Linked DNA regions of Homo sapiens: region 1 is linked to region 2. Evidence: fine-mapped expression QTL. Tissue or cell type: whole blood. Region 2 holds a variant in brackets; the other region holds the start of a gene. All regions are shown on one strand. Distances are between the middles of the regions.

Evidence for each region. PIP is the estimated chance that this variant, and not a neighbour inherited with it, causes the effect.
Region 1: REV1 starts here. The variant in region 2 is fine-mapped to the expression of REV1 in whole blood (TOPMed, PIP above 0.99).

What each region holds. Positions count from the first base shown.
Region 1 is chr2:99,488,445-99,491,112 of GRCh38, forward strand. REV1 (REV1 DNA directed polymerase) reads right to left here and starts at 1,573. Exons shown (of 23, transcript NM_016316.4): 1 at 1,373-1,573. RefSeq lists silencers at 1,048-1,127, 1,198-1,297, 1,408-2,077 and an enhancer at 1,511-2,396.
Region 2 is chr2:99,554,323-99,556,822 of GRCh38, forward strand. AFF3 (ALF transcription elongation factor 3) reads right to left here. Exons shown (of 25, transcript NM_001386135.1): 23 at 361-410; 24 at 1-212. Among named protein-coding and RNA genes, the nearest start is that of REV1, 66 kb to the left of the region's middle. RefSeq lists enhancers at 1-141, 142-689, 1,073-1,579. The variant C/T (reference allele first, on the strand shown) is at 1,297.

The sequences.
Region 1 (2,668 bases), 66 kb before region 2:
GTACAGACTCTACCCTCAAAAGGTCCTACACAGTAAGAGAAGACAGGGCTAAAAAGATAAACGCAACACAGGAAAAGGCGCAAATAGCCTAAGAATTGAATGGAAGAGAGCCTTGTATACTGGAGAATGATTCCTGGAAGAGGAACTTTAGGTGAGCTCTTAAGTGTCCAGTACAGGAAGGCAGGGAACAATACGCAGCACTGGTCCCTGCACGGGCAAACCCAAGAATATGTGTGAAAGGTTGGTGGACAGATAGATGGTTCCCACAGGCTGATTTGCTACATACAGAACTCCATAGAAAGAACCAAGGTTATGGTTGGTCCTACCCTACCTAAACAGGAAATGGCTTATTCTCGGAGACTAAAGTGCCAAGTCCGGAAAGACCAGACAGATACACAGAATTACAGACTGTTACATAAAGTCCTTAATAGTTACAAGCCCTTGTTGTGCTATGTGCTAGTCTGCATTATTTTCACCTAAATGAAACCATTTCTACTTAGTACATGGCGTGAGAAGACGTGGAGATAAAGAGAATTAGCAGACGTATATTATCTGCAATTTATCTTACGGAGGAGTACATTAAGGAGTGTTATGTGAGATTATTTCTTTACAAACTGAGAATAGGTAGGAAGAGCAGCGAAACACAGCGCGGCTCGGTGCGCCCAGAGCGGCGTCACTGTAACAGTACAGAAGTGGGCAAGGGGCTCTCGGAAGGACAGTTGGGGAACGGCGCCCAGCGTATTTAGCGAACGGACAAGCAGCAAGGAAAAACAAGGGAGCAACAACCGCCTTCGGACATTCCGACCGGTTCTGGGATGCACCGGGGACGTCGAAGGCGGGGTGCGGAAAAACGCTGTGGCTGGAGTGCGGGTGGGAGCGGCGGCTCGACCGGGTCGACATTCTACAAACGCTTGTGGAACGAACGCCCGAACGCGCGCGTGAATGAATGGCGCGGAACTGAATGGCCGGCCGAGGCGCCGGCGCAGGAGGAAGGAGTTTGCGGCGCGGTCTGACCGGGCCGGCGGGATGCGGCCGGGCGCGGAGGGAAGGGCCGCTGCGCCAGGGGTCGGCGCGGGGCGGCCCATGGGGCTGGCGGCGGCGCGGGGCCGGCCGCGCCATGACGGAAGGGAAGGGGAGGGGAGGTCACACATTACATAACCCGGCGGCTGCGAGCGTCAGGGGAAGGCGCCGTGGACAGCCCAGGCCGCGACAGGACGGCCGCGGGCCGGGGCCGGGGCGACGCACCCCTCCCCCGCGCCACCTCAGGCCGACCGCGCTCTGGCCGCTGCCGGGCGGGTCTGCGGCGCCTCCGGGCGACGCGTGTCCGATCCCGCCCCTCCCCCACCCCGCCGCCGGCCCGGGGGTCGCTCACCTTCCGCGTTGCCCCAGACCACCATGCCCGGGCCCGGCGGCCTTCTCCGGCCTTGCGGACCCCGGCCCCGCCGCCGCCAGTGCCCTCGCCAGGGACCAGGGAGGAGGGCCGGGGGAAGGCAGCCCCACCGCTGAGCAGCGCCGCGGTCCACGCTCCCCCACGCTCGCGGCAACCAACCCCGCGCGCGCTCCGCGGTGGCTCTCCGCCCCTCCCCCTCCGGTTAGCGCGCGCGCCGCAGCCACGCCCCCTAGCGTTCCGCGCGCGCTCCCCGGCCCCGCTCGCGCTCACAGCCGCGCGGCGCACGCGCTCTGCTCCCCCCGGCCCGGGGCGACCCCAGCCTCGGGCGTAGCACCGCGGCGCCCGGCGTCGGCCTCCGTGTTCCTCCCCTCCCCGGCCCCGCCCTGTTGTTCTGCAGCCGCCCGCAAGGGGCAGCGCCTGGGCGGCACGTGACCGTCTCGCTAGCTGGGCGGAGGGGAGCGCAGCGCGGGCCCGCCCACGCACTGCGCCGCCTGCCCGCCCGTCCTGCTCCGGTCACCCCCGCGCTTCGTTGACCGGGTCGCGGCTCTTCGGTTGCCATTCGGACAGCGCGCCGCTCCGTGCACAGCGAGTCCCCGCGCCTGCCCCGCCTTGGGGCTCCCCAGTGGGGAAGGACACAAGTGCAGACACTGACCGGGCTTCAAACCCCGGTACTGTGTGAAGATGCGCCAGACGCCCGGGTTCCCTCCTTAAGCAATTGATTTACAGTGACATCTAGTGGAGAAAGGGACACACATGAACTGACATTTTCCTATGTCCAGAGCAACCGAGAACCACGGCCCACTCAGGTTCGCGGGAAGGAGCACTGCGCCACGGCGTTTTCGGGATTCGTGGCCTGCTCCCGCAGGGCACAGACACTATCTTCTGTCCTTTGAGTGCCCGGGCAGCATTGCGCCTGAGTATTTGTAAACGGAGGGCCGGTATCCCATCCCATGTACAGCGCTGGAGTTACCCGAGAAAGCAGTTTTCTATGAATATAAAAATAATATCCTATATTATGTATGCGTAAGTACAATTCTAATTGAGGGCCTTCTAGCAGAAAACAATCCGTCCATAAGGACCACTTTCTCCCTCTTGGCAGGGTCGCTTTGAAGACTCCACATTGTTACATAATAGTCTTTATTGTTGTAATGCACAAACATGAAGATACTTTTTTCCCACTCATTCCCTTGCCTAAAATGCTTCAGAGTTTGCAGGTACTTAGGAAACAATCAGTATTCTTTTGAAAACTGATTTGCAGAGTTGGAACTTGTTTACTAG
Region 2 (2,500 bases):
TGGCCAGGTTGTCGGCCATCTCCCAGTAGTCGTAGCTGTGCAGGATGCTGTTGGTGATGCTGACGTGGTTGGCCGCCATCTGGTGGATGCGCTGTGGGATGCTGACGATGGTCGACGGGGACAGGGCGCTGGCGTTGGAGAGGCTGCCCTGAGACCCCACGGAGCTGGCGGGAGAGGGGTTGGGAGACATGGGGGATGGGGTTCCAGTGCTCCTGGAAGGGGAGAGGTAGAAAAACCAGAGTGGCGAGGTCGGGAGCAAGCGAGGCAGGGCAGCCCCTTGGGGAACAGAAAGCAAAGCGCAGTGGCCCAGCACCATGCATTGTCTGGCTTACGGCATTGACTTTGGAAAAGCGAACTTACTTTCCACTGGCCCCCCACGGAGATGGGGCTTGGGCGGCTTTAGATGAGTTCTGCAAGAAAATAAAAACACTGACAGTGAGTGCCATCTGCGTGAGGTGAAACAGGTGACATGAACGTGTTTTCAGGTGACTGCAGAGAGAAGCAAAGGCAGACACTGCAGGAAAAAGGCACCTTCAGAGAAACTGGACCTGGGAAGTCTCCATCACAGTTCTCTGTTCCCTTTCTGGAAGGGAGTCGGGACAGCTGCCTGGACTTCGGAAGTTTAACAGTATTTCTCTTAAAGGGAGTTGCTCTTGAACATTCCTAAGAGAATATATTTAAATGTATTTCCCTAGCAGACAGGATACTCAAAAGTTCTAGTTTATCTGAATATTCTGATTTAGAAGTTATTTTGCATGGACAAGGTGCCTGCATCAGCCCTCAGTGAGGTAAGTGAAGGGCTTCACCCACAGCCTGGGTTTTTATGTACAAATTTTAGGTACCACATTAAGTCATAATCCCAACGGTCTGTTAAATCTTGAAGCAGCCTTACTTTTTCATTGTAAATTAATTTTTCTTAAAAGGAAAAAAGAGCAGGAACACCCTCATATCTCCCCTTATATACAATACTTTATATTTAAAAGTAGGACATGTTTGCAGAAACAGTCGACATACATTTACTTAGTGCCTGAAAATACATGACATCAGATTGTATTGTTTTAACTTAGGAAGTTTAAAAGTATTTCTTCTTAAAGTAAGTTGCTGTTGCATATTCCTAATAGAATTGATTAAAATATATTTCCAGAACAGACAGGATGTTCAAACATTCTGGTTTATCTGAATATTCTGGTTTAGGAAGTTCTGTTGCACAAGCCAGGTGCTTGCATCAGATATTTAAAAGTTTTGCCTCTAGTTAGGGAAGTTGCTCAATGCACAGTTAGATTTCCCCTCTGAGAA[C/T]CCAATCATGCCTTCATAGGACTGTTAAGGGAGAAAGCGGTCTTTGTGATGCTGATGGGAGTTTTCCCCTTCCAGAGACAAGAAAACAGCCTCAGCCTGGTTCTCCAGAGACAACATGTTTCTTTTGGTTAGAAAGAACTTTATGGAGTGGTGACTGATTTTTCTGGTTTTAGTGCGGGTGTTATTAAAATGGCAAGAAATGGCCTGTCAGAACTCTGAGGTGCTACAATGGCAAGATGTAAATGTAAGGACAACACCGCAAACCATGCCACTTTTACCTGTGTCAGGAAATACAATTATTTTCATGAGGAGAATTAGGAAACCTTCCTGAACAGGGGAGCTTATCCTCCCTTTCTTGACACAATGTTACTGACACCTTTCTCAAGCTGGTGCTACTGGACTGATCACTTTGTTTCCACTTCATCCTGTGGTTCTGAGAACGTGATCTATAGAATGCATGTTCTGGATATAAGAACACTAATGGCAGAAGGGGAGAAAGGCTTGGGGGTTGCAGAAACAGTCCAGTAAAGGCTACTGAATGGAGGAAGAAGGCAGTGACTCACGCCTGTAATCCCAGCACTATGGGAGGCTGAGGTGGGTGGATCACCTGAAGTCAGGAGTCTGAGACCAGCCTGGATGACATGGTGAAACCCCATCTCTACTAAAGATACAAAAAATTGGCCGGGTGTGGTGGCACACGCCTGTAATCCCAACTACTTGGGAGGCTGAGACAGAATCGCTTGAACCTGGGAGGTGGAGGTTAGGGTGAGCCAAGATTGTGCCACTGCACTCCAGCCTGGGTGACGGAGCGAGACTCCGTCTCAAAAAAAAACAACAAAAAAAGAAGTCTTGAGTTCTCTTCCTCTACCACTAAGCCCCATGCCCAAGAAATACCGGTAGGAACAAAGTTCTTTTTTTTTAGAGATAGCTCTGTACTGATAAAACACATATAGCCAAATTGTCTTGGGTACCTAAAGATTTCATGGTTTCTGAACTCAAAGTAGCATTTAAATAGCCCTTGAGGCTGGGTGTATGGCTCACATTGGTAATCCTAGCACTTTGGGAGGCCAAGGCAGTAGGCTCGCTGGAGGACAGGAGTTCGAGAAGGGTCTGGACAACACAAGGAGACCCTCTGTCTACAAAAAATGAAAAAATGAGCTGGGTGTGGTGGTGTGTATCTGTGGTCTCAGCGACTTGGGAGGCT